Homo sapiens: one gene and its partners. The protein of the gene in region 2 purifies or fractionates together with the protein of the main gene of each other region. This does not show direct contact. Each region holds a gene or a part of one and is shown on either strand. Other genes may lie near its edges. The genes, in order: EIF3CL, LETM2, NUCB2, ARPC4, AP2A2, CYP51A1 and PDIA6.

Region 1 (4,674 bases), on a different chromosome or scaffold from region 2:
GCCATCAGCCCACCCCACCCCTCCACCCCAGACAGTTCTGTCATCTTCCTGCTCCAGTCACACCTCCCACTAGCAATTCCATCTTTGGGCCTCAGTCACGGGGTCACTGTTCCCAGTTCAGTAAGTGTGCCTCTAGCCTCCCCACCTGCTTGTAGCTTGTGATATGGGACTCGAAATCACGGTTGTATTTTCGGATCTTCTGACGCAAGGTGCTCAGAGCCTTGGCATTGTTCTTGTTCATCTTCTTCTTCCCTTCCTTATCTTCCCAAAGCTAAAGGGAAGAAGAGGAAAGAAACAGAGAACAGTGATTTGAAACTAAGTAACATTTCCTAAACTCCAGGCTTCTTCTCCACTTTTGAGTCTTGCTATTGGAACACCACTGGTACTACTTATTAACTACATCTGTTAGCTTATTTTTAAAAGATCCTATACATCCCACCACTAAAAGTACAAAACCATGAATAAGTGGTGGTAATAAATATAGGCATCACACCTCATTAAGATAGTCCTCTAGGTCAGCCAGGATGCGGATATAGAACCGGGGGACACCTTCTTTGTCCACAATGCTTTTGGCCTTCCCATATGCTTTTCCCAGGAGCTCAAACTCTTCCAGGCACTTGGTGACATCACGAATCTTCATGGCATTACGGATGGTCCGGATAAGGTTGGTCAGCTCCTCAAACCTGGGTTGGGAGCCCGATACCACATTGAACGTGCCCACCGAGGGAAAACTCACCACTGCTCCCAGAGACTCCTATCACCCAGCCTCCCCACAGCTTCATTGCTCCCAGAGACTCCCATCACCCAGCCTCGCCATGGCTTTACCTCTTGTCCTTGGCACTGCGGACAACTCTCTTGGTATCTTCTTCATCCTCGCTCAGCAACAATGGCCTGTTTGGAAGGAACAGAGGCCATTAACCTCCTTTCCCAGTCTTTCCAAGAGATCCGTATTTCCCTACTCAGGACAGGTAGAACTAAGTAATCCAGGCCATCCACACCACACCCATCCTCTTTTTGACTCCTCCTCAGGGCCACTTCATATACAACTCAATCTTTTAAGTGTACACTAAGTAAGGCCTTTTGCTCAGTGTTGTAGCAACACAAAGATGACATTCACTATCCTCTCAAAAACAAATGAAAGTGCTAATTTACTGTGTAACTAATGACATAGAGACACAAGTCACCACAGAAGTAATGAATAAAAAAAGAGGTAGAGAAAAATGATACTTGAGCTATAATGAACAGAAAAGGCTTTAGGGAGGTGGTACCTAAACTAGATCTTAGCAACATTTCCCAAAGTATGAGAGGCCAACAGCAAGGAGAAAGTCTCAATGGTATTAACACCTCCACTGCTAGTATTTTTCTACGATAATAAGACCAGACCACAGGCTCACAGTCAGCAACAGTATCTCTACTCTTTTTGTTTGTTAAGAGATAAGGTCTCACTATGTTGCCCAGGCAGCCTCCAACTCCTGAGTTTCAAGGGATCCTCCCACCTCAGCCTCCAGAGTAGTTGGGACTACAGGCATGCACCATCTTGCCTGCCTCTTTTCCCTTTTTATTATTTTTTGGATTATTTTAGCGGTGTTTTTTGAGGTGGAGTTTTGCTTTTATCGCCCAGGCTGCAGTGCAATGGCGCAATCTCGGCTCACTACAACCTCCGCCTCCAAGGTTCAAGAGATTCTCCTGCCTCAGCCTCCTAAGTTGCTGGGGTTACAGGCATGTGCCACCACAACCGGCTAATTTTTGTATTTTTAGTAGAGACGGGGTTTCACCTTATTGGCCATGCTGGTCTCAAACTCCTGACCTCAAGTAATCAGCCTCCCAAAGTGCTGGGATTACCGGCTTGAGCCACCTGCCCAGCCTGGATTATTTGGTATTTTATGGCAAATGACACTGGTTTCCACCTGTGGAAGTGATACGAAACCATATGCATATTGGCATATACATGTGCAATACATACTTTTAAAACAGTAGCACAAACGTGGCAGATGTTTAAGAAACACCATTCCAGTGGGGCACAGTGGCTCATTCCTGTAACCCCAACACTTTAGAATGCTGGGCGGGAGGTTCACTTGAGCCCAGGAGTTCAGAACCAGTCTAAGCAACACAGTGAGACACCTTCTCTACAAAAAATTAAAAACAATTAGCCTGCTGCGATGGCGTGCACCTGTAGTCCCATCTACTTGAGAGGCTGAGGTGGGAGGATCGCTTGAGATCTGAAGGTCGAGGCAGCAGTGAGCTATGACCCCTCAAAAAAAGAAAAAAAAAAGGAAAAAGAAAAACCATTCTATTGTTCCAAAGGGTAAAAAAAAAAAAATTAATGTACAGAAATGGCGGATGGGTATTTACGTAGAGGTGAACAGGCATATAAAATGTTTAAGCACCTGCGTACACAGCAGGTGACCAGACTTCAGAGTCGCATCAGGGGGCTCCCAGATACCAATCAAGCATTTTGCATTTCCTTCTGTGAGCAGTGAGAAGTCACTAAGGACTTCTCGGCGGTAAAATGAGAGGAGACAGGTAGAGGCTGTAGACTTAAGGCCAGTTAAGAAGCTGATGCAACAGATCTGGCTTGGGAAACCTCTGTGATTCTATCCCTTGTGCCTGGTGGGTGGCTACCGGCTATCACAGCCCTCTAAGGCTGTCTCTCTCCAACACCGCTCCGATCCTGCAAACTCTGGTCATTGTCCAAACCCACTCTCCCCGCCCTCACCTCCATCCCCTCCCATGTGCACTGCGTTCCACAGCCTGCCTAACCCCGCACTCCCAGAATGGTCACAGCCACAGCCCCCGCAACTCACTGTTTGCCATAGTTGCCTCCGACAGGTTTGGTGACGAGCTCCTCCCCGGACAAGGACGACTCGGACTCGCTGTCCGAACCGGTGGTGAAAAACCGCGACATGGCGACGGCGCGGAGGTGCTACGGCCGGACCTGCGGGGGAGCCAAGGCGTCACCGGCCACGCGAAGAGGCCCGAGCCAACACCTCCCGACGCCCAACCCCTCACCGGCCCCACCCGGACCTCGACCTGGGTCTCCCACCACGAAGCACGAGGCCCAAAAAATACCAACCAGCTGAGCCCGCGAGTCACACCGCAGGGCCCTGACAGCGGAAACGCCGAGAGAGAAGGCGGGTCCTCGCGTCACTTCCGGGAAGCGCCGACTAACTACACTGGGAGACTACAACTCCCAGTGGCCTTCGCGCCATAAGGGGGCGGGGACAAGCCTGAGGGAACCGGGCGCTGAGACCTTGGCTGCAGGCGTCGCGAATCCTACCGCGCGTTGGTGTCGGGATTTAAAACACGAAGATCGGCGGGGCGCAGTGGCTCACGCGTGTAATTACAGCATTAATAGGCATTAATAGTATAGAAGTAGATAATCCTGCCGGGTGCGGTGGCTCACTCACGCCTGTAATCCTAGCACTTTGGGAGACCGAGGCAGGCGGATTACCCGAGGTCGGGAGTTCGAGACCAGCCTGACCAATATGGAGAAACCCCATCTCTACTAAAAATACAAAATTAGCCAGGCGTGGTGGTGCATGCCTGTAAGCCAAGCTACTCGGGAGGCTGAGGCAGGAGAATCGCTTGAACCCGGGAGGCGGAGGTTGTGGTGAGCCGAGATCGAGCCACTGGACTCCAGCCTGGACAACAAAAGCGAAACTCCATCTCAAAAAAAAAAAAGTAGACAATGCTAGCCAGGCACAGTGGCTCACTCCTGTAATTCCAACACTCTGGGAGGCTGAGGTGGGTGGATCACCTGAGGTCAGGAGTTCGAGACCAGCCTGGCCAATATGGCAAAACCCCGTGTCTACTAAAAAATACGAAAATTAGCCTGGCACAGTGTCACCTGCCTGTAATCCCAGCTACGTGGGAGGCTGAGGCTGGAGAATCACTTGAACCCAGGAGGAAGAGATTGCAGTGAGCAGAGATCACACCACTGCATTCCAGCCTGGGTGACAGAGCAAGACTCTGTCTCAAAAAAAAAAAAAAAAAAAAAAAAAGTAGACGATGCTAGATCTTGCAGGTCTTTATAGGCCTGTGGTTTGGAGCCGCCATCGGCAGAGGTTTTAGTGCAAGGGACTGTGTTACATTTTTCAAGGTGGTTTTGATATGGGAGCGGGACAGGGAAGTGCTGGGAAGGGAAGAGCATGCTCTTCCAAAGTGCTGGGATTATAGGCATGAGCTACCACACCTGGCCGTTTTGTTTTTTATTGTGAAATATTTCAACAGACAAGAATAAAGACTATTCCAATGGACATCTATGTACTCACAACCCACCCAGCACCGTCAAAACTTAATATGAGGCTGGGCATGGTGGTTCATGCCTGTAATCCCAACACTTTGGGAGGCAGAGGTGGGCAGATCACTTGAGGTCAGGAATTCGAGACCAGCCTGGCCAACATGGTGAAACCCCATCTCTACTAAAAATACAAAAATTCGCCTGGCATAGTGGCAGATGCCTGTAATTCCAGCTACTCAGGAGGCTGAGGCAGGAGAATTGCTTGAACCCTGAAGGTGGAGGTTGCAGTGAGCCAAGATCGTGCCACTGCACTCCAGCCTGAGCGACAGAGCAAGACTCTGTCTCCAAAAAAAAAAAGTTAAAAAAAAAAACCAAGGGGTTCATTGTACGTCTGTAAATCCATAAATATCTTTTTTTTTTTTTTTTTTGAGATG
Region 2 (3,945 bases):
TTACAGCCATTTTCTTTTTCTGTTTTTCTTCCTTAATGGTAGAAGAATAAAAGTTACTCAATCCTTCGTGATTGTAAATTGGTAGATAAAGATGGGAGAAAAATAACTGTCTCCTTGTTATTGCTCATCCCTACATCATGTAATAACGTGATTCTCAGGCATAGATGAATGGGTTTGTGAGACCAGAGCAAGTAAAAAGAAGCCTCTATTTGGAACTTGTCTCCTTACTTTTTCTTTCTCACTAATACAATAATCATAAGCATTTGATAGATCCAAAATGTTCCCCCAATGGGAGGCTTTATAATTATTTAGCACGAGATACTATCTCTCTCTCTCTCTCTCTCTCTCTCTCTTTTTGAGATCAAGTCCCACTCTGTTGCCCAGGCTGGGGTGCAGTGGCACGATCTCGGCTCACCGCAACCTCCACCTCCCAGACTCAAGTGATTCTCCTGCCTCAGCCTCCTGAATAGCTGGGATTACAGGTGTGTGCCACCACACCTGGCTAATTTTTTTTTTTTTTTTTTTGAGATGGAGTTTCGCTCTGTCACCCAGGCTGGAGTGCAGAGGTACCATCTTGACTCACTGCAACCTCTCTCTCCCGGGTTCAAGTGATTCTCCTGCCTCAGCCTCTCGAATAGCTGGGATTACAGGTACACGCCACCACACCCCGCTGATTTTTTATTTTTAGTAGAGTAGGGGTTTTCACCATGTTGGCCAGGCTGGTCTTGAACTCCTGACCTCAAGTGATCTGCCTGTCTCGGCCTCCCAAAATGCTGGGATTACAGGCTTGAGCCACAGCGCCCAGACAAGAATGAGATACGATCTCAACCTGGTGCAAACTATCCAGTCTGCCAGTTGAGCTAACTCCTTGAGTGGCCCTGGGTTTTTCTTTACAAACAAAGAAAACTAGGAAATGGACTCTACCTAATGTGGCTTACAGTTTAACTAGAAAACAGACATAAGTAATTACAATACAGTGAGTTAAGTGCTCTAACAGACATGAACACAGCACTACACAGAAGAAAAGTAAATGGACACTGTGTTGGCTGGTGTTTCTTAATCCTTGTTAATCATCAGAAATGTAGTATGGTAGCATTTTCAAAATAACCACAGTCAGGACTCAGGGTGGTAAAGAAGAACAGGAATCTACGTATATTTTTAAGTTGCCTAGGAGATTCTAATGATCAGCCAATCATAAGAATCACTGATATTTAGATAGATCTTAAAAGATACAGCCAAAAAAAAAAAAATCACACAATAGTATGATCAGAACCCACTTAGTGGCCGGATGAGGTGGCTCACACCTGTAATCCCAGCACTTTGGGAGGCCGAGGCAGCTGGATCACCTGAGATCAGGAGTTTGGGACCAGCCTGGCCTGTCACGGTGAAACCCTGTCTCTACTAAAAATACAAAAATTAGCCGGGCGTGGTGGCACATGCCTGTAATTCCAGCTACTCAGCAGGCTGAGGCAGGAGAATTGCTTGAACCTGGGGGGAGGATGCAGTTAGCCGAGATAACGCTACTGCACTCCAGCCTGGGCAACAGCACGAGACTCTGTCTCAAAAAAAAAAAAAAAAAAAAGAACCCACTTAGTCATCCATTTCATTCATCCATATCCTTCCATCCATCTATCCATTTATTTATTGCACATCTACCATATTAGGTACTGGGGATAAAATGAGCAACAACAGGTAAGAATTCCTGCCCTCATGGAACTTTTAGTGTAGTGGGAGAGACAAACTTTAGTGACTAATGATAATCCCACAATTCCTCACATTAATATAGAAGCATAATGGGTAAGTGCTATGAAAGAGAAATACATGGTGCTGTGATCTGATGTAAACAGAAAGCTCCTCTCTCCATGGAACAAAGCAAACAAGAATTTTCTGAGACTGTGGCCATGATGTAGACATATTTGTATGTTTCAGGGAATGAGTGGTGTTCAGGAAAGAGGTAACATTTAAATAAATCACTTCCTCTATTCCCCCCATCTTCCTGAATTCACTAATACTTTCCTTGGAATGTTATGGCATTAATTCTAGATGCTGATTATTTTAAATGTAAGCAAATTAAAACATTGCCAGGCAGTCAAATATTGTAATTTGATTTATCCTGTGAAGGTATCCCGAATTTGTCTTCAAGTCTCTTTTTTTTTTTTTTTAAGACAAAAATCTCACTCTGTCGCCCAGGCTGGAATACAGTAGCATGATCTTGGCTCTTGGTAACCTCTGCGTCCCAGGTTTAAGTGATTCTTCTGCCTCAGCCTCTGAAGTAGCTGGGACTACAGGCACGTGCCACCATGCCAGGCTAATTTTTGTATTTTTAGTAGAGATGGGGTTTCACCATGTTGGCCAGGCTCGTACTGAGCTCCTGACCTCAAGTGACCCACCCACCTCGGCCTCCCAAAGTGCTGGGATTACAGGCATGAGCCACCACGCCCGGCCTTCAAGTCTTTATTCTTATTGTCAATTTCATAATGTATTCTCTGTCATCTCTCTCTTGGGCTAGCATTCCAGCTGGTTTCCCTTCCTTGGCTCTACCCTCTGCTGCCCCTCCTGCCAGCAAAATTATTCCTCCAAAACATAGATCTAATCATGTCATCCACCCAGCTACCCTGCTTCAAACGTTCCCTTTCCATTATTCACCATGGTGAAAGGGAAAGCCTAAATTCCTTAAGTGGGTGGATGCCTTCCAACCTGACCCCAACACATCACTTTGTCTGTTTCCTGTCATTGATGCCCTGGAACTGCCTACTTCAACCACAAATAACCAACCAGTGGTCTCTGATTACATCATACTCTCTTATGCCACTGAGCCATGTTAAATGCTATTCCTTTTATCCAGAATACCTTTCCCAGACCATGGTAAAATGCCACTTACTCTTTAAGTCTCAGTTCCAAAGTTACCTTTTCTGTGAAAAAGTTTCCAATCTTACTGATTTAAAAGTTGCCCTTAAAATTAGCTGGGTGTGGTGGCAGGCGCCTGTAATCTCAGCGACTCAGGAGGCTGAGGCCGGAGAATTGCTTGCATCCGGGAGGCGGAGGTTGCAGTGAGCCAAGATTGTGCCACTGCACTCCAGCCCGGGTGATGGTGCGAGACTCCGTCTCAAAAAAAAAAAAAAAAGTTGCACTTTTTGTCTTCTCATAATGTTTTGTTCACACTTTCTTACCATATGCTGTCAACGCTGTCTAGTAGAGTGGCACAGAACGGGGAGAAGGAAGGAGCTGCCTCTGTTTTCTCACCGGCACAGTGACTGCCACACTCAGTGAAGGCTCCCTCTTCTCAGGGGCTGCTGAACTGTCTGTTGGGCTGACTAAATCATACCTACTGTTCCACTAGTCACCGCGGTAACAGTGGATTTCTGTTTTCTTTATTCTTTTTTTTTTTAAACAGGATCTCACTCTTGCCCAGGCTGGAGTGCAGTGCAGTGGCCTGATCTCAGTTCACTGCAGCCTCAACCTCCTGGGCTCAAGCAATCCTCCCGCTTCAGCCTCCCAAGTAGCTGGGAATTCAGGTGCATGCTACCACACTTGGCTAATTTGTTTAAAATTTTTGTTTTTTAGAGACAGGGGTCTCACTATATTGCTCTGGCTGGTCTTGAACTCGTGGGCTTAAACAATCCTCCCACCTCAGCCTCCCAAAATGCTGGGATTACAGAGATGAGCCACTGCATCCAGCCTGTTCTCTTTGTTCTTTTGACAGTTAAAATCAAGTTAGAATTTAGTGGAGAAGAGAAAATCTTTTCAACAAATGGTCCTGGAAAAGCTAGATATCCACATACAAAAAAGAGAGAAATGAATCTATATACTGACATTACAGTTTTCATAAAAATTAACTCGGCCTGGCGCAGTGGCTCACGTCTGTTATCCCAGCACTTTGGGAGACTGAGGTGGGCAGATCACCTGAGGTCAGGAGTTCGAGACCAGCCTGGCCAACATGGCAAA
Region 3 (3,945 bases), on a different chromosome or scaffold from region 2:
TGCTTATTCTAGACATAACTAGGACAATTAATTTAAACACTGACTCTAATTCTTAATAAGGCCTCCATAAACATCAACTGTATTTAAAAAAAAAATGGTAAGTATTCCAGCACATTAGGCAGAAAAATAATGACACAAAAGTCTCTTTAAATGCCAAGATGTCAAATGTGTCTGCATTAAAGGAATAACAGCAAATTTACTAGGTTTACAGATTTTCATGAATGAGAAAATATACAAATATCCATATAGAAGAAAGAGATGAGTGATAAGGACAGGCAATAGGAAGAAGGAGAACTAACCTACTTTTCTTCCACTATCAGGTCAGTAAGAATGGCCTTCTCCTTTCCTTTATCACCCTCTTCTTTCATAAGAGAGATACGGACCTAAAGAGGAGACACTGGGCTGAACCAGGCTGAAACAGTAGACTCATCCAAACCAGGACAGGCTGATAATTTACTCTCTAAAGTAGGATGGTGTGAAATTCTAAATTATGTAGTCATCTCAAGACAGAATGGGAGGCACTGACCCCAAAGGCATCAGAGCCTCTGGTAAAATTACAAAGTAAGCAGAGTTCTTAAGCTTCTCTTAGTATTCAGTAGATATAATTTCCTTAAATTTTAAAGTCCTAAAAGAAAGCTAATCTCTCTTCCCCTGTCTCAACCAAGTCAAAATTTCTATTCTGCTGGGCACGGAGGTTCCTGCCTATAATCCCAGCACTTTGTGAGGACAAGGAGGGTGGATTCCTTGAGCCCAGGAGTTCAAGACCAGCCTGAGCAATATGGTGAAACCTCTGTCTCTACAAAAAATACAAAAATTAGTTGGGCATGGTGGCACATGCCTGTAGTCCCAGCTACTTGGTGGGGGATGAGGTGGGAAGATCACCTGAGCCCAGCAGGTTGAGGCTGCAGTGAGCCATGGTCACGCCACAGCACTCTAGCCAGGGTGACAGAGTGAGAACATGTCTCAAAAAATAAAATTTCCATTCATACACAGAGGCAGATTTCTTAGCTACTGATTTATACCCATAGTTATACAGATTAAGTTTGCTTTGTGTGTGTGTGTGTGTGTGTGTGTGTGTGTGTACGCACACGTGCGCGCATGTATGTGTGATGGTTTCCTGTTTTGATTGTTGGGCAAGATATCCTGGAAGTGGTTAAAAAAAATTACCATAGATAACCAGGGTGAAAAGTACAGAAAACTGAAAATTTTCTCTTTCCTTGGAAGTAGTCTCTGTTCCTCCTTTATATATCTTTTTTTTTTTTTTTTTTTTTTTGAGACGGAGTCTCACTCTGTCACCCAGGCTGGAGTGCAGTGGCGCGATCTTGGCTCACTGCAAACTCCGCCTCCCGGGTTCACACCATTCTCCTGCCTCAGCCTCCTGAGTAGCTGGGACTACAGGTGCCCGCCACCACGCCCAGCTAATTTTTTTTTTTTTTTTTTGAGACAGTGTCTCGCTCTGTTGCACAGGCTGGAGTGCAGTAGTGCAATCTCAGCTCACTGCAACCTCCGCCTCCTGGGTTTAAGCAATTCTCCTGCCTCAGCCTCCTAAGTAGCTGGGACTACAGGCGCATGCCACCATGCCTGGCTAATTTTTTGTGTTTTTTTTAGTAAAGACAGGGTTTCACCATGTTGTCCAGGCTGGTCTCGATCTCTTGACCTCGTGATCCGCCCGCCTCGGCCTCCCAAAGTGCTGGGATTATAGGCGTGAGCCACCTCACCCAGCCACGCCCGGCTAATTTTTTTGTATGTTTTTAGTAGAGACGGGGTTTCACCATGTTAGCCAGGATGGTCTTGATCTCCTGACCTTGTGATCTGCCCGCCTTGGCCTCCCAAAGTGCTGGGATTACAGGCATGAGCCACCGCGCCCAGCCTCTTTTATGTATCTTTTTCCATCTTCCTCAACCCTCTTCTTTTGCCCCTCTTCCTTTTCAATTAATGGCTGAATTGAAGCATGTTTCCTTTAACCTATTATAAGTATGTATGTATGTATGTATGTATGTATTGAGACTTTGTTTCTAAAAACAAAACTAAACTAATATTTATGTATTAAGTAATGACTATGGTACCAGATACTATGCTAGAAGACAAAGGTAAGCGAGATCGACATAGTCCTTACCCTCACAGGGCTTCAATCTAGTGAGGAAGGTAAGCTATTAAATACAATTGCAATTTTTAAAATGCTGCTTACAAAACAATGCATAGCATGATACTTTTCTGTTAATTAAAAAAAATTAAAAGTCATGAAAATGGTATTCACCAAACAGACATTCTCAGTCAGGTGATTTATAACGTTAAATGTCTCTTAAAAACTGGGTTGTTTTTATGGTCACAAGTCTCCTGATTATTTTGTTTGAGGTCAACAAGTCTAGATCAGAAAAAAGGAAACTGCAATACTAGCAGCAAAAGAACTACTGTACTTTGTGCCTATCTAATACAACCAAAAAATGTAAAAACTTTCAAAAATACAAATATACTGTGTAGAAATAAAATCTTAACTTACTGTCTCCCTTCTAAAAACTCTAAAAGATTGACTGAATCTTTAGAATCTTTCTCACTCCAATTTCCATTCCCTGAATTTCTTTTTCTCAAAGCTATTTATTTCAGTTTACTTTTGAAATAGAAATAATGACAATTGAACCATTTTGCAGGACAAGTATAGGGTATATTTATATAATATTCACAAAGAAAAGTCTGGAAGGGGCTGGGCACGGTGGCTCACTCCTGTAATCCCATCACTGTAGGGGGCTGAGGCAGGCAGATCACCTGAGGTCAGGAGTTCAAGACCACCCTGGCCAACATGGTGAGACCCCATCTCTACTAAAAATACAAAAATTAGTTGGGTGTGGTGGTGGATGCCTGTAGTCCCAGCTACTGAGGAGGCTGAGGCAGGAGAATCGCTTGAACATAGGAGGCAGAGGTTGCACTAAGCCATTGCACTCCAGCGTGGGTGAAAGAGTGAGACTCCGTCTCAACAAAAAAAATAAAAGTCTGGAAGGAAATAAAATATTGGTGTGGCTAAATAAGTTAAGCAAGAACTAGTAGTAAGAGAAAATTTCAAGACAACTAACAGTTAAGTGGTTAAAAAAAGAAGAAAGGAAAGAAAAAGAACAAACTACTTTTAGCTAGCAAGGAAGGCAAGTGTTCCTCATGTGACCATAGTGAAATGTATCTTGAGATGAATTATATTTACTTTCAATATAAATTTACTTCCTGATGATTAGTTATGTGATACCCTTGGGATAACTTATCTCTGTCATTTTAGTGCCTTGATTATAGCAAGTAGCTCAATAAATGTTAGCTCTTTTTAACACAACCATAAAATGTACAACAAACATCTATTGAGCATTTATGGGTAATTTTAAAAAATAACCAGAACAAATCCACAAATAAGACAGAAAAGCTTCTATAATGAATTAAGGGCTAAAAGTAAAAACAGAAACACAATTTATTACATGAAGATTATTTCCTTCTGTAGTTAATAGTCAGACTTATATCTCTGCCATGGCAAATTATAGAAGCTTCTATGAGTGGTTATCACAGCTTACAGATTTCAGAGCTGAAAGATAAAAAGATTCATATCATGGCAGACACTTCTATTTGCTTGCCAATATCCAAATCTTTCCTTCCTTCTCAGTAACAAAAGCCCAATTTTATAGAGGGCAGACATGCAGTCAGCTACATTTCCCTGCTTTCTTATAGCCTCAGCCTTGGTTCAGGAATTCTCCTTAAAGGAAGAGGATGCATCTTTCTTCGCCTATGCTTTGCTGCCTGGAACATGACAGTGATGGTTAGAGCTCTGGCAGCTATCTTGGACATACAAGAACCAGTACTACAAGAATGTCTTAGGGATCACTGATAAAAGAACTGAAAGAAGCTTAAGTCTCTGATGACTTTATAAAGCCACTATACCCATCCTAGAGTGCTATTTCAATTATTATTTTATAT
Region 4 (3,945 bases), on a different chromosome or scaffold from region 2:
TTTAAGAGACTGATTCAGTGGGCCGGGCGCGGTGGCTCACGCCTGTAATCCCAACACTTTGGGAGGCCGAGGTGGGCGGATCACAAGGTCAGGAGATCAAGACCATCCTGGCTAACACAGTGAAACCCCGTCTCTACTAAAAATACAAAAAATTAGCCGGGAATGGTGGCGGGCACCTGTAGTCCCAGCTACTCGGGAGGCTGAGGCAGAAGAATGGCGTGAACCCAGGAGGCGGAGCTTGCAGTGAGCCCAGATTGCAGACTATGATTCACTTTGGGAGGCCGAGGCAGGCGGATCACCTGAGGTCAGGAGTTTGAGACCGCCTAGCCAACACAATGAAACTACTAAAAATACAAAATTAGCTGGGCATGGTAGCACATGCGTGCCTATAATCCCAGCTACTCGGGAGGCTGAGGCAGGAGAATCACTTGACCTGGGAGGTGGAAGGTTGCAGTCAGTGAGACTGCGCCACTGCACTCCAGCCTGGGCAACAAAAGCAAAACTCCATCTCAAAAAAAGAAAAAAAAAGGCCAGGCGCGGTGGCTCAAGCCTGTAATCCCAGCACTTTGGGAGGCCGAGGCAGGCAGATCACGAGGTCAGGAGATCGAGACCATCCTGGCTAACATGGTGAAACCCCGTCTCTACTAAAAATACAAAAAATTAGCCAGGTGTGGTGGTGGGCGCCTGTAGTCCCAGCTACTCAGGAGGCTGAGGCAGGAGAATGGCGTGAACCCGGGAGGCGGAGCTTGCAGTGAGCCAAGATTGTGCCACTGCACTCCAGCCTGGGCGACAGAGCGAGACTCCGTCTCAAAGAAAAAAAAAAAGAGAGAGAGACTATGATTCATTTGGCAGATCTTAGAAAGGATTTCTAATTCACTGTGCTCTTTCTGATGCTAGACTATAGGCTCCGGGAATAAGCAATGTGTCTTATCTTTTTTGCCTTTTTTTTTTTTTTTTTTTTTTTTGAGACGGAGTCTTGCTCTGTCGCCCAGGCTGCAGTACAGTGGCACGATCTTGGCTCACTACAACCTCCGCCTCCCAGGTTCAACCAGTTCTCTGCCTCAGCCTCCTGAGTAGCTAGGATTACAGGCGCCCACCACCATGCCCAGCTAATTTTTGTATTTTTAATAGAGATGGGGTTTCACCATGTTGGCCAGGCTGGTCTTGAACTCCTGACCTCATGATCCACCCACCTCGGCCTCCCAAAGTGTTGGGATTAGAGGCATGAGCCACCACGCCCGGCTCTTTTTTGCCTTTTCTATGGCTGAGGTAGACCCAACTTTTCCTAAGCTTCTAATCCTCTTTGCTCCCACTCCAAGATGAAGGCCAACTCTCAATTCAGGCAGTGGGTGCCAAACAGCTGGAGTAGCTGGTTCTAGAAACAATCCCAGGCCATTCTGTAACAGGGTCCTGGGTATCGCAAACTCATGGGTCACAGGGTCTCACCTCCACAGGCTTCCTTCGAAGGATAAAGAAGTTCTCTGCTCGCATCATCATGAAGCGCATGAACTTGTGGCACAAAATCTTCTCGATCTCATCAGCCTGGGGAGTGCAAGAGAGAAATGTTTCTCTAAAGCTGACACCCAAGGCCAAAAACACCTTGTAGCCTGGTCTTCTGACTCCAGTTTTTTCAAGGCTCCCAGGAGACAGTGAGGTTTGGTACTCGGAAGGATCACTGAAGTGGGGGACCTGGCTGTCAACTGAAACAAGGGTCTACCTTGGGGCATCTCTTAATGACGACCCATTCCAGAGAGGTAATTCTGACAGGCTTCTATTGCTTCTTTCAGAGTCTACAGCTGTACTCCAAGCTGCCCTTTCCATTCTCATTTCACTAGTGTCACATTTCCCAGGGTGTTTTGCAGCATCACCTGGGCTATCAGAGATAACCTTAGGTGGTCTCTGCTTTAATAACACTGAACATCCAACAATCCCTGAAGTTTCTCCCTTCTGAATGCTCAACATTTCTTTTTTTTTTTTTTTTTTTTTTTTTCTGAGATGGAATCTCGCTCTGTCACCCAGGCTGGAGTGCAGTGGTACGATTTTGACTCACTGTAAGCTCTGCCTCCCGGGTTCAAGCGATTCTCCTGCCTCAGCCTCCCAAGTAGCTGGGATTACAGGCGCGTGCCACCACGCCTGGCTAATTTCTGTATTTTTAGTAGAGACAGGGTTTTACCATGTTGGCCAGGCTGGTCTTGAACTCCTGACATCAAGTGATCCACCCGCCTTGGTCTCCCAAAGTGCTGGGATTACAGGCATGAGCCACTGTGCCTGGCCCTGAACTCTCAACATTTCTAAAGGAAGATTATTGCTGCTGGTTGCTAGCATGCCCTTAACACCTCTCAACACTTGTTAACCTCCCATTTTAGCAAGGAAAGCAGGCCCCAGGTTTATAAGTTTCTGTAGAAAACAGTGTGTAGTCTGCATTTAATAACAGTGCTTCGTTTTCATCCTGTTGAAAGTTTAGAGTTGCCCTCTACTGGCCAGGCATGGTGGCTCATGACTGTAATCCCAGTACTTTGGGAGGTTGAGGCGGGCCCATCACCTGCGGTCAGGAGATGGAGACCATCCTGGCAAACATGGTGAAACTCTGTCTCTACTAAAAATACAAAAATTAACTGGGCGTGGTGGCGGATGCCTGTAATCCCAGCTACTTGGGAGACTGAGACAGAAGAACTGCTTGAACCCGGGAGGCAGAGGTTGCAGTGAGCTGAGATCATGCTGCTGCACTCCAGCCTGGGCGACAAGAGTGAGAATCCGTGTCAAAAAAAAAGGAAGCAGAGGCTAGGTTTCCTGCACTCTGAATCTGGAATCTGGCACACTGATCTCTCAGATGGGGACCCCGGACTGAAAGAGGCTGAAAGGACTGAAAGAGGCCTTACGTTGGGCCTCCTCCATGGTGAACTTACCTGTTTCACAGCAATGCTGACCCGGACAGAGTTGATGGAGCCCTCAATCAGAACCTTTTCCTTCTCATTCCTGCTGATGGTCACAGGTTGTAACAGGAGCTCTTTGCTACTCCTGAAAACATAATGTGACAGAGTACTTGTACTACAGAGGGATAGAATAGTCAGAGTGACCCCACGCAGGTCCTGGAATCACTATGAGACCATAGAGTCCAAGGAATAGAAGACTCACAAGCAGGAGTGCTCCAAGATGGGGGCCAGTGAGTGTGTTCTTCAGCAGAAAGAGCACAGGCTCTGAAGTCAGGGCGAAAAGGTTTTGAAATCCAGCCTCCTCTGTTACTTTCCTTGGGCAAGTTACCCTGTTGGAATCTCAATTTTCTCATCTGTAAAATGACTCTGATTCCTAATTCACTGGCGAGGACTGAGAGAGATCAAAAAGGGTCAAATGTCTAATAGCGTGCCTGGCACATAGTAGGAGCTTTACAAAAGATAGCTATTTTAGTAACTACAAGTTGAACATCCCCAATCTGCAAATCTGAAATCCAAAATCTGAAACTGGCTGGGCACAGTGGCTCATGCCTGTAATCCCAGCACTTTGAGAGGCTGAGGCTGGTGGATCACCTGAGGTCAGGAGTTCGAGACCAGCCTGGCCAACATGGTGATATCCCATTTGTACTAAAAATATAAAAATTAGCTGGGCATGGTGGCGCACTCCTATAATCCCAGATACTCAGGAGGCTGAAGCACGAGAATTGCTCGAACTCAGGAGGTGGCAGTTGCAGTGAGCCAAGATCATACCACTGTACTCCAGCCTGGGTGACAGAATCAAACTCCATCTCAAAAAAAAAAAAAAACCTGAAAGTTTCCGAGTGCTGACAAGATGCTCAAAGGAGATCCTCATTGGAGCATTTTGGATTTGGAATTAGGGATGCTCAACTGGTTAAGTATCTGCAAATATTCCACAATCTGAAATACTTTTGGTCCCAAGCATTTTGGATAAGAGATACTCAACCTGTACAGGCAAACCAATATACCATTTAGG
Region 5 (3,945 bases), on a different chromosome or scaffold from region 2:
TAGGCTCCCGGTGGCAGCACTCCTCTGACCTCTGACTGCGCCACCCTGGGCTCCCGGCGGCCAGTGACTGCGCCACCCTGGGCTCCCGGCGGCCACTTCTCTGCTGGTTTCTTCCGGCTCTGGCCAGTCTTTCCTGCGAGCCTCACCTGGGGGTTCCCCTTCTTCCCCTCTCTGGCTCACTCTCACGGGTGCCCCCCGGAGGCACCTGCCCAGCCCACACCCACGTGGCAGCCACCCACATGGAGCTCTGCCAGGCTGTACAACACCAAACTCATCTCCCCAAAGTCACCTCGCCTGGAACCAAGCCCCCTTCGAACAGCGCCAGCTGCCAACACCAACGCCAGCAGGCATCAAGACCGCGCACCTCCCGAGGGCACCCCTAATACCCTGCCGCCCCTCCCCACACCCTGCCGCCCCCTCTCCACACCCTGCCACTGGCCTCTCAGGTGCTGGTGACTGTGCCCCCCCACCCCAAGTCCCTGCCTGGAGCCTGGACCCCCAAACCCCAACCTGACTCCGTGACACTTCCAGGGCATCATTCCAAAATGTACTGCCTCTGAGCCCTACCCGCAGCTCACGGCTGTGCACCAGGGGCCCTCAGGCCTCACTGGCAGGGTCCCCATGTCTGCTTCCACCCCTGCCTCGCGTGCCCTGCTCCCCAGCCTGTGCTAAGGTACCTCCCACCCCTCCACGAACGGATGCTCTGCCCTCCCAGTAGCCTCTGCACCATCATCCTCTCCAGACCAGGCCACTATCACCTTCTGCAGAAGTCCACACAGCCCCCCAGGAGTGTAATGCCTCCTGAGGCCCCCAGAACATGAGGCACTTCCTCCAGCCATCCCACCCACAGCACAGCAACCCACGGTCCTGCTCTCAATCCGTCCCCCTCCATGGATGGCAAGGTGCCGAGTAGGCAGGGAGTGGGCCATGTCCAGTTTGGACACTTAGCACCTAGCACAGCCAGAGAACACGCCCTGCCATGCTCGACTGAAAGGACAGAGGGAAACACCATGCCCGGCTGAAAGGATGGAGGGGAGCACCATACCCGGCTGAAAGGACAGAGGGGAGCACCATACCCGGCTGAAAGGACGGAGGGGAGCACCATACCCGGCTGAAAGGACGGGGTGGGGGGAGCATCGTGCCCGGCTGAAAGGATGGAGGGGAGCACCATGCCCGGCTAAAAGGACGGAGGGGAGCACCATACCCGACTGAAAGGATGGGGTGGGGGGAGCACCATACCCGACTGAAAGGATGGGGTGGGGGGAGCACCATGCCCAGCTGAAAGGATGGGGTGGGGGGAGCACCATGCCCAGCTGAAAGGATGGGGTGGGGGGAGCACCATGCCCAGCTGAAAGGATGGGGTGAGGGGAGCACCATGCCCAGATGAAAGGACGGGGTGGGGGGAGCACCCTGCCCGGCTGAAAGGATGGGGTGGGGGGAGCACCATGCCCAGCTGAAAGGATGGGGTGGGGGAGCACCATGCCCAGCTGAAAGGATGGGGTGAGGGGAGCATCATGTCCGGCTGAAAGGACGGGCTGGGGGGAGCATCATGCAGGCCAAGACACAGCACCTGTCTTACTCCTCACAGCAGGAGCTGGCTGAGGATTGCCGCTCATCACGCAGAGGGGCGAGAGCAGACACCGGGCTGACGAATGCCCAGGACCTCAAAATCTGCACAACTGCACTCAGAAGCACACTGCTTCTGTCTCTGTTCAAAACACCCAGAACAACAATCAGGAACGAGGCTCCCGTGACGGCCGTCCCCAGAGCCAGCCCCACCCCACCACAAGTGCTGACACCAGGCCACACTGCCCCAGCCAGGCCAGAGAGGGACCACTGGCTACAGTCAACGAGCACCTGCCTGGCCCCTCTACAGACAGCCCTGCCCTACACCACGGTGCCTGCCCTTGGGGCCTCCTGCCGGGAGTCAGCCCACCCCGTCCCTGTCCCCCTCAACTTCCCAGGCCCACTGTCCTGGAGGGTGGACAGTCCAGCGTGAGAGCCGCCTCCTGGCCCCTGCTCTCTGCAGGTCTGCAGTGCCTCACTGAAGCTCAGTCCATGGTAATTTCACCCCTCAGCATTGAAGCCCCAGCACCTGGGCTCCTCCGTTCACTAAAAGACCCCTGAAAACCCGAGTCTCTCACCTGGGCATGACCACACAACACCTGCCCAGAGCAACCCTGTCACCTGCCACTAGCTCCAACACTGGCTCTCGGCAAAGCTCCCAAGGAGGCCTTGAGCCGCACTTCGCCCAAAAAAAACAAATAACAAAGCGCTTTCTATACAACGGAGGCGCTGTCTCAGCCTCAACAAGAGGCTGTGGTCCTGGCTGGTCACAGTGGCGAACCCCACGCGAGGACACCGGGCCTCCCCCTTAAACCCCACCATCCACAGACACGGTGAGCCTGAGAGGCCTGTGAGTGTGGTGGAGGCCTCAGGCCCTCTTCTCTGCTGACCATGTGGCCTCCACAAGGGTTTCTTCCCTCAGGTTTTGGTTCATGCTCAGTCTTTCACACGTACAGGTTTGATGAGCTTCAGCTATCTGGCAAGTGTGCACACCTACTTTGTGAATAAAAACAACACGGGACATTAAGCTATGGCCTAGATCCCGTCCTTCCCAGAGATCAAGAGGGACACCCAAAAAAGCCAAGCCACAAAGGATTAATTCAAGGGCTCAAAATGCAACACAATTAAAAGAATTTTGCCCACAGGAGTCTGGATTTGTGCAGCCCCAGCGCAGACGGCTGGAGCCTCACTCAGACCTGGGGCTACAGTGCCACCACTGCAAGGACAGGCAGGCCACAGAAGCCGCGCAGGACGGGCATTTTAGTTTTTTTTTTTTTGAGACAGAGTTTCGCTCTTGTTGCTCAGGCTGGAGTGCAATGGCGCAATCTCGGCTCACCACAACCTCCGCCTCCGCCTCCCGGGTTCAAGCGATTCTCCTGCCTCAGCCTCCGGAGTAGCTGGCATTACAGGCATGCGCCACTACGCCCGGCTAATTTTGTATTTTCAGTAGAGACGGGGTCAGGGTTTCCCCATGTTTGTCAGGCTGGTCTTGAACTCCTGACCTCAGGTGATCCGCCCGCCTTGGCCTCCCAAGGTGTACAGGCGTGAGCCACCACACCCGGCCAATAGTTATTTTCAAGACCAAACGACTCTACCAAAAATGCTGATTTTTTTTTAAGACAGGGTCTCGCTGTGTTGCCCAGGCTAGAGTGCAGTGACATGATCTCGACTCACTGCAGCCTCAACCTCCTGGCCTCAGGTGATCCTCCCGCCTCCACCTCAGGAGTAGCGGGGACCACAGGTGCCACCACACCCAGCTTGAAAATGTGGATGAAAACACAGAGGCAGAGGAGCCTTGTATTCAGCATCTCATGGGTTCTCAATCAAGTCCTGCTGGACGGAATCGCAGAGCACGAAGGAAATCCTGCCGCTGAGATTCACGCCTGTGGCAGGAGAGGACTCAGAGGCCACCAGAACTCACAATCTCTTCTCGGATGGAGTAGTCAGCTGTCTCCAGATAGCTCAGCATCTCGGCCACGATCTGTGGGGCGTTGCTGCGGTCGCACATGGCGTAGAGGAGGTCCACGGCCCGCTGCCGCACGCTCACGTCCCGCTCAGTCTGGGGAACAAGGCACAGAGTAAGAGGTCGCAGGAGCAAGGCACAAGCTTGGGGACAGGCTGGGGACAGGCTCGGCACCCGCATCTCAACACCCACTCTGAGTTTCCCTCACATGCACATCCAGGTCCAGGGAGCCGACCTGCACTCGGGCCACGTGTGTCTGGACAGCCCGGAATAGAGTTCCGCCTGCTGGCCCGGCCCTCCCGCACAGGCCAGCTTCGCTAGGACCCAGCGCACTGCCTGGATTCTGCCCGCTCGTCCATGCCTCCCTTGCCCTCCACAAGGGCCAGCTTCGCTAGGACTGAGCGCACTGCCTGGTG
Region 6 (3,945 bases), on a different chromosome or scaffold from region 2:
AGCCACACATTTCATTAGAGAATTTAAAAATGTGCTGACAAATAATCAGATCATTGTGTAATAAAGCATGAATATACATGGGATACTCAGATGCTCCTTGACTTATGATAGGTTTACATCCTGATAAATCCATCATAAAGTCAAAAAATTATAAGTTGAATCACATAAATCAAGAACCATCTGTACATATATTTAAAAACTGGCTAGATAATAGGCAAACTAAAAATTATTTTAACTCAAGATGATTTCCAGTGAGCCAGCGTTGGGTTGGAAGTACACAGTACACAAATCAAACCCATAATGCCTTGGAGGTAGGGTTGGAATTTCAGAGAGGCTTTCACTATCAATTTGTACACTTCATATTAACAATTTTTTACAACAAAATGTTATTTTTAAAACCAAGAAAAATATGTACTTTGATTTTTAAAACCCCAATTGTTAAAGAAAAATGCAGAACATGATTAGCATTAAAGATTAGCATGTAGGCCGGGCGCGGGATTACACCTGTAATCCCAGCACTTTGGGAGGCCAAGGCGGGTGGATCACCTGAGGTCGGGAGTTCGAGATCAGCCTGACCAACATGGATAAACCCCATCTCTACTAAAATACAAAAAATTAGCCAGGCATGGTGGCATGCCCCTGTAATCCCAGCTACTTGGGAGGCTGAGGCAGAAGAATTGCTTGAACCCGGGAGGCGGAGGTTGCAGTGAGCTGAGATCGCACCACTGCACTCCAGCCTGGGCAACAAGAGTGAAATGCCGTCTCAAAAAAAAAAAAAACAGATTAGCACGTATACTATCTACAATTAGGTAAAAATATGTTTTTAGAGTATATAAAACTGAAGATTAGGTAGAAGTGATTATTCTACTTTTTTAATTTAAAAAAATCTCTTTTATGCTACTCTACTTCCTCTTTTCTTTTTCTTTCTTTTTTATTTTTATTTTTTTTGAGACAGGGTCTTGCTCTGTTGCCCAGGCAGCAATGCAGTGGCGTGATCATGGATTACTGCAGTTTCAACCTCCCAGGCTCAAGCAATCTACCCACATCAGCCTCCCAAGCAGCTGGGACCACAGGCATGTGCCATTATGGCCAGCTAATTTTTAGAAAAAATTTTGTAGAGATGAGGTCAGTCTCACTATGTTGCCCAGGCTGGTCTCAAATTCTGGCCTCAAGTGATCCTCCCACCTCAGCCTCCCAAAGTGTTGAGATTACAGGTGTGAACCACCACACCCACCTATTTCTTCTTTTTGATAAAAACTGGGGGTATAGAGGGGAAGATGTAGCCAAGATACTCACCTGAGGAGTTCTGGCCATTCTCATCATGATCATTATAGGAGGTCTAAGTCTTAATGTTTCTTTTATACAGCGATCAAGTAAATTTAGATCCTTGAGCTAAAATGAGAAAGCATTTCCTGATTGTTATAAATAACATACTTCAACAGTACAAAAAATTAGTTTAACTTCTTAGTTAGTACAAGACAGCTTGCATTCCAGCTAAAAGTACAGAGGTAACTGGTTCAGGGTGGCTGGGGTTATCATGCTCTACCACTGTCCATGGTGAAAAAGGAGGGCAAGGTAACAGAAGCGATTGCCCTGAAGAATGAAGTAAGAACCTACAAAAATTCACTCCTCCAAAAAATGAAAACAGTAGCAACAATCTTAATGTCAACTTTTTCAAAATTCTGGAAGATTAACCAAAGGCTTGCAACAATCTAAGGAGAGTTAATTCAAGAAAAAGAAATCTGAATCTTGGTAAGAAGAGTAAGCTTTGTGGTAGTGTAAGTTGTATTTCTTTCATCCTCCTCTCCCCAAATCCATGGTAGCCCCGGAAACCAACAGCATGACAACTATAGCAGCTGTGAAAGCCAGAAGCCTAACAACTATTAGAGGAGCCAGAGCAAATTTTCCAAAAATATTTAGCAAAAATTGTTTAACACTGAAGGCGCCTGAGATGGTGATATCAGTTGGTGCTAAGAGACAGAACAAGAAGTTTAAAAGGGAAAACTGGGGAGTAAGATGTCCACAGGAGACTTTGAAAAGTTCCAACATAAGAGAATCTTGAAGGCCACACATATGTATAAGACCATGCATATGCCCAGGTAAGATCTAAGAGGCTGTAATCTTTTACCTCTGGCTGACCTGTACACACAGGTAGTGAAGGCAGACTTGTAACTGCCTGTTGGAGTGTTAATAACATCCCCTAACACACACATACAGAGCCTTTCAGCAAAAGCTAGGAGACTGGCTGTTCAAAGCACTTCAGTAAATCTCTGTCCAAATATTAGATGCCCACTAAAGTAAGCAAGCAGAGATTTCAGTGACCTCACTGAACAAGGAATGACATAATTAATCCAGGAAACGCAGTAAACAAACAGCAGCAGCAACAACAACAACAACAAAGAGCCAGCAACAATAAACCCAGGGAGGAGGGCATCTGATTTCCACAGTTGCCACATTATTTTAAATGTACAGTTTTCAACAAAAAAATTACAAAAAACACACCAAAACAGGAAAGTATGGCCAGTACATAGAAAAAGCAAGCAGTTTAATAGAAACTATCCATGAAGAAGCCCAGACATTGGACTTACTAGATAATGAATTTAAATCAGCTATTATAAACAGGTTCAAAGAACTATAGCAAAATATGCCTAGATATCTCTAGTAAAATGGAGAATATCAATATATTATTTTTTTAGAGAACCAAATAGAAATTCAAGAACTGAGAAGTATGAGAACTGAAATGAAAAATTCACCCGAGGGGATCAACAGCAGATTTGGACTGGCAGAAGAAAGAATAACATCAAAAAAATAACAATAATAAAATACTTAAGAATACATTTAACAAGAGAAGTTTAAACATTGTGCACCAAAAACTATAAAACATTGTTGAAAGAAATTAAAGAACTAAAATAAGAGAAAGACATCTCATGTTCACAGATTTAAAGACTAAAATTGTGCTCCCAAATTAATATGGCGATACAATGCAATCATTGTCAAAAATCTCAGCTAGCTTCTTTGCAGAAACTGACACACTGACCCCAAAATTCATATGGAAACTAAAGGGACTAGGAGTAGATAAACAGCCTTGAAAAGGACAAAGTCAGAGGACTCACACTCCCGAATTCAAAACTTATTACAAAACTACGTAATGGCATCAGACTAAACATATCAATGGAATAGAACTGAGTCCAGAAATAAAGCCTTAAATTTATGGTCAAGAGGCTTTTTAAAATGTATTTATTTTTTCAGAGACAGGGTTTCGCTATGTTGCCCAGGCTGGACCCCAAGTCCTGAGCTCAAGCGACCTTCCCATCTCAGCTTCTCAGTAGCTGAGAATACAGGCACGTGCCACTGCGCCTGGCTATAATAGATTTTTTTACAAAGACAATTCAACGTGGAAAAAATAGTCTTTTCAACAAACAGTGTGGGACAACTGGATAAACACATGCAAAAGAATGATGACCTCACATCATATACATAAATTAATTCATAATGGATCAAAGACCTAAATGTAAGATATGAAACTACAAAACACTAAGAAGAATACACAGAAATAAATCTTCATACACTTTGATTAGGCATTAGTTTCTCTGACACCAAAAGCACATTAAAAAAAAATAGATGAACTCTTACAACTCAATAATAAAAAGACAACTCATTTTAAATATGGGAACAGGATGTGAGCAGACATTTCTCCAAAGAAGTATACCAAAGCCAAAGAACACATCATAAGACACTCAACATCACTAGTCACCAGGGAAATGCAAAATCAAAACAAAATACCAACTGGGCATGGTGGCTCACACCTGTAATCCCAGCACTTTGGGAGGCCAAGGCGGGCAGATGACTTGAGGTCAGGAGTTCAAGACCAGCCTGGCCAATATGGTACAACCTTGTCTCTACCAAAAATACAAAAATTAGCCAGGCGTGGTGGTGTGTACCCAG
Region 7 (3,945 bases), on a different chromosome or scaffold from region 2:
CACAGCTTACAAAAACACGGGGGAACCACTCTCAAGAAAGCCTATAATCAGCTGTTCAGATGACACTCAGACAGTAAGCTCAGTAACTTACCCCCACATTTTCTTTTTGTATTTGTCTGCCAACTTCAGAAGAACTTCCAGATAAGAATTTCTGCCTGCAGCTCCTGATTTAAATAGACAAAGTTTTTTAAAGGTAAAGATAAAGGAGTCCATAAAATTAATCCATTTAGAAAGTATTCTCAGAGCATCTAGCATAGAACAGCTAAGGGAAATCATTTCCGTCTGTCTTACCAGTATCAAGGATATGGGGCAGCACAGCCACAACACAGAGCTGGTGCTCCTCACACGTCCTCTTGGCAATGTCCTCGTTGATAATCTGTGGGACCCAAAAGACAAGGGACAATCAGGAGGCTGCATGATACAACACCTAAAGGTAAGCTGGCAAACAAGACCTTCGCACCGTCACTTTCATTGAAAACATTTCTCCCACGACTACTTCCTCGTATGGAAACACCTGGAGGCATGTTCTCTAAGAGGAGATTTTTCTGCTACTGATTCTTAAGCCTGTGGAAGCTGTGGTGGTGGAGGTGGGGTGATTAGCACACATACAAACATCTCTGAAATCGCAATGCCTGGACACAGCCTGGCTCTGCCACTTACTTGTTTAAATAGATTATACTTACATGTATTATATGTCTTATATGTTTATACACACTTGAGGCTCTGTGCCTCAATTTCCCCATATATAAAATGGAGATTAAAAACAGTATCTACCTCTCAGTGTTCATGTGAGAATTAAATGAAAACAAAACAAAACAAAACAAAACTATACAAAGACACCAGAACGGTGCCTGTTACATGATTAGTACTTGATAAATGTTCTATTACTTTGAGAATGATAAGCAAGAGTGATTGAATACACTCTATCTTTAAGAAGCTCGTATTTCTGTTCAGTGTAATTATTCTAATGCTAAAAGTTATGAAAAGCAATTTATCAGACTTTTTTTCCATTTCAAAGTATAGAAACCACTTTAAAGAGAGTATCTTTAAGGGCATAAAATGAACAGTGTGTCACACTGCTTTAACATTCCTCACCATCAGCTAAAAAAGCTTTCTGGACTACAAGCAGTTGAAGTGGTTTACCTCAAGCAGCTCAGGAGGTGGGGCGTTATCAGAAAACAAATCAAGGGCCCGGGACACGATGTCGGATCTTGTCCGCCCACCGTCATAATCCACAGGAGACTCGCCTTTCTGAAATATCTTGATTGTAGGAAATCCTCTAATCTATTAAAAAAAGGTCAGAGGATAAAATCCAATTAACACTTAATGCAAAATAACACAATCTTTACAGTTTCTAAAACCACCTTATAGGTAATTTTTTTTTTTTTTTTTTGAAGCAGTCTCACTCTGTTGCCCAGGCTGGAGAGCACAGGTGCAATCTCAGCTCACTGCAACCTCTGCCTCCTGGGTTCAAGCAATTCTCCTACTTCAGCCTCCTGAGTAGCTGGGACTGCAGGCACACACCACCACACCCGGCTAATATTTGTATTTTTAATAGAGACGGGGTTTCACCATGTTGGCCAGGCTGGTTTTGAAATCCTGGCCTCAAGTGATCCTTGGCCTCCCAAAGTGTTGGGATTACAGGTGTGAGCCACCACTCTGGCCTTATAGGTAATTTAATGTAACAAAACTGTTCTCCAGACTGCACAGATTTCAAAGGAATGACTCACAGAGGTCAATTATCAATCAGGGAGTTTTAACAGTCTGTGAAGTTTAGCCAATCATATTCAAGCCCTGGTATATAATTAACACAAAGTACCTGCCCTAGAACAAATGGACCAACTCACAACAGCCATATGAGCAACTTGAATAAGTCTGGGCAAGCTGAAACCTCACATTAAGTATATACCAGAAGCAGTGTGACATTAGGGGGAAAAGTTGACAGTCCTGAGTTTCAGACTTGTTAGTTATGACAATAAAGTGACTTTATCTCTTCACTTACAAAATGGTTTAAACATCTCCTTTACTACCTCATAGGGAGGCCTGGAGTATTGGAAGAAGTAACGAAACACCATGTATTTCACAATGAAATGAGCCTTATAAGTATACTCACCCCGTATCGGGAGGCCAGAACCTGATTGACTGTAGCATCCACAGCTGCCAGTTTCACTTTTCCTTTCGTCTGCTCTTTTACTTCTGAAGCTGCGGCAGCCCACTCTGGCTCTAGGCTATAGAAAAATATTCGTTTTGTTTTGTTTCTTTGAGACACAGTCTCTCTCTGTTGCCCAGGCTGGAGTGCAGTGGTGCAATCATGGCTCCCTGCAGCCTCAATCTCCTGGGCTCAGGTGATCTCATTTCAGCCTCCAACATAGCTGGGACTACAGGTGTGTGCCACCACCCACTGTTAATTTCTACATTTTTAGTAGAGATAGGGTTTCCCCATGTTGCCCAGGCTGGTCTCAAACTCCTGGCCTCAAGTGATCCACCTCACCAGGCCAAATACTTGCATTTTAACTTGCAGCCCAAACACCTTTCTTTTCTTTTCTTTTTTTTTTTAAGACAGAGTCTCCTTCTATTATCCAGGATGGAGCGCAGTGGTGTGAGCTTGGCTCACTGTAGCCTCTGCCTCCCACAATCAAGAGATTCTTGCACCTCAACCTCCCAAGTAGCTGGGACTACAGGCACACGCCACCACACCCAGCCAATTTTTTTGTATTTTTAGTAGACATGGGGTTTTGCTATGTTGCCCAGGCTGGTCTCAAAGTCCTGACCTCAAGTGATCCGCCTGCCTCGGCCTCCCAAAGAGCTAGGATTACAGGTGTGAGCCACCATGCCTAGCCTATACTTTTTAACTGATCTGTGCATTTCTGCCCAATCCCCAATTATGTCACACCTAGAAAACATTTTGTGTGTGGCTTTACTAAAGATACAATGCTACCCTTCACATGAGCTTCCCATTCCACCACTGCCCCTAAATCCAGACATGAGCCAGTCCCTTGTTAATCTTTGGCAATAGGAGAGTGGAAGCTCTTGGCGCTAATGTCAATGTTTAATATTCACTTAGAGTCAGAGTTTTGCTGGAAGAGATCTTAGTGGTGATCTATTATCTACTTCAGCTCTTTCAAAATAAGCTAATGAATGTACTGAAAACACTGTGAATGAACAGACTACTTAGTAGAAGGCACTTACTTTTTGCAGTGTCCACACCAAGGAGCATAGAACTCAACCATCCAAACATCTTCACTGTCCAGAACATTCTTATCAAAGCTGTCGTCTGTCAGCTCAATCACATCCTTCTTACTTGAACTATCACTTCTGCCCTGTCATTTATGACATTAAACATCAAACAATTGGGCCAAGAAGAACACTTTTCCTGTTTTAAATAATAACACTACTGCTACATCTTAACAAAGTTTTAGGGTTTTTCTTTAGTGAATAAAATAGTGAAAACGGTTGTATTCAAATTGGGTACATTCCTCAGCACTGTAATTTTTGCTTGGCAAATAGTCTTTTACTTTCAAGTAATTATCAATACATTCAGTACAACACATAACCTGTACCTGAATGCTGTCACCAGCTATTTTTAGAGAGAAACCTCAACATGGCTCAAAAAACCACCTGAACAACACTGTTCTAATTCAGACTCAAGTACAGCTGCTGCTTCATCCTAGGATGTTATGTTACATCTTTCATAGACAAAGTCCCTACCAGTCAACAGAGCTAAAAATAACACTTAATCCTTTTCTTTTTTCGAAGAATGTTCTTCAGTACTAAATCTAAGAAGCAGTCAGCATTGCTTTCTGTTGCCAGGCAGGGTGCAGGGGGCCAGGCAACTATGCTCATTAAATGTCTAAGTTTAAAATAAAAGGCAAGAGCATGAAATCTCTGGGTAAGCTCTGAGCCTGTATAAAGAAGCTAGTGTAACTGGTCTCCTAAAAGTAAAAG

The links.
Region 1: the proteins of LETM2 (region 2) and EIF3CL purify together in Homo sapiens (affinity purification with mass spectrometry; one large-scale study listed by BioGRID and IntAct). This does not show direct contact.
Region 3: the proteins of LETM2 (region 2) and NUCB2 purify together in Homo sapiens (affinity purification with mass spectrometry; one large-scale study listed by BioGRID and IntAct). This does not show direct contact.
Region 4: the proteins of LETM2 (region 2) and ARPC4 purify together in Homo sapiens (affinity purification with mass spectrometry; one large-scale study listed by BioGRID and IntAct). This does not show direct contact.
Region 5: the proteins of LETM2 (region 2) and AP2A2 purify together in Homo sapiens (affinity purification with mass spectrometry; one large-scale study listed by BioGRID and IntAct). This does not show direct contact.
Region 6: the proteins of LETM2 (region 2) and CYP51A1 purify together in Homo sapiens (affinity purification with mass spectrometry; one large-scale study listed by BioGRID and IntAct). This does not show direct contact.
Region 7: the proteins of LETM2 (region 2) and PDIA6 purify together in Homo sapiens (affinity purification with mass spectrometry; one large-scale study listed by BioGRID and IntAct). This does not show direct contact.

Annotation. Positions count from the first base shown.
Region 1 is NC_000016.10:28,400,714-28,405,387, forward strand, and holds the start of EIF3CL (eukaryotic translation initiation factor 3 subunit C-like protein), read right to left. Parts: upstream 3,129-4,674; 5' UTR 3,074-3,128; exon of another isoform or gene 3,025-3,073; intron 2,936-3,024; 5' UTR 2,906-2,935; coding exon 2,805-2,905; intron 892-2,804; coding exon 826-891; intron 684-825; coding exon 494-683; intron 272-493; coding exon 146-271; intron 1-145. UniProt on the Homo sapiens protein: Component of the eukaryotic translation initiation factor 3 (eIF-3) complex, which is required for several steps in the initiation of protein synthesis.
Region 2 is NC_000008.11:38,396,358-38,400,302, reverse strand, and holds part of LETM2 (LETM1 domain-containing protein LETM2, mitochondrial), read right to left. Parts: intron 3,388-3,945; exon of another isoform or gene 3,174-3,387; coding exon of another isoform or gene 3,171-3,173; intron 216-3,170; exon of another isoform or gene 32-215; coding exon 1-31.
Region 3 is NC_000011.10:17,283,072-17,287,016, reverse strand, and holds part of NUCB2 (nucleobindin-2 isoform 1 preproprotein), read right to left. Parts: intron 384-3,945; exon of another isoform or gene 300-383; intron 1-299. UniProt on the Homo sapiens protein: Calcium-binding protein which may have a role in calcium homeostasis. Acts as a non-receptor guanine nucleotide exchange factor which binds to and activates guanine nucleotide-binding protein (G-protein) alpha subunit GNAI3.
Region 4 is NC_000003.12:9,799,258-9,803,202, reverse strand, and holds part of ARPC4 (actin-related protein 2/3 complex subunit 4), read right to left. Parts: intron 3,019-3,945; coding exon 2,907-3,018; intron 1,543-2,906; coding exon 1,447-1,542; intron 1-1,446. Other genes in the region: ARPC4-TTLL3 fusion protein, read right to left, coding at 1,447-1,542, 2,907-3,018. UniProt on the Homo sapiens protein: Actin-binding component of the Arp2/3 complex, a multiprotein complex that mediates actin polymerization upon stimulation by nucleation-promoting factor (NPF).
Region 5 is NC_000011.10:988,232-992,176, reverse strand, and holds part of AP2A2 (AP-2 complex subunit alpha-2), read right to left. Parts: intron 3,626-3,945; coding exon 3,488-3,625; intron 1-3,487. UniProt on the Homo sapiens protein: Component of the adaptor protein complex 2 (AP-2). Adaptor protein complexes function in protein transport via transport vesicles in different membrane traffic pathways.
Region 6 is NC_000007.14:92,117,224-92,121,168, forward strand, and holds part of CYP51A1 (lanosterol 14-alpha demethylase), read right to left. Parts: intron 1,393-3,945; coding exon 1,297-1,392; intron 1-1,296. UniProt on the Homo sapiens protein: Sterol 14alpha-demethylase that plays a critical role in the cholesterol biosynthesis pathway, being cholesterol the major sterol component in mammalian membranes as well as a precursor for bile acid and steroid hormone synthesis.
Region 7 is NC_000002.12:10,788,606-10,792,550, forward strand, and holds part of PDIA6 (protein disulfide-isomerase A6 isoform d precursor), read right to left. Parts: intron 3,321-3,945; coding exon 3,190-3,320; intron 2,229-3,189; coding exon 2,114-2,228; intron 1,285-2,113; coding exon 1,144-1,284; intron 377-1,143; coding exon 292-376; intron 165-291; coding exon 92-164; intron 1-91. UniProt on the Homo sapiens protein: May function as a chaperone that inhibits aggregation of misfolded proteins. Negatively regulates the unfolded protein response (UPR) through binding to UPR sensors such as ERN1, which in turn inactivates ERN1 signaling.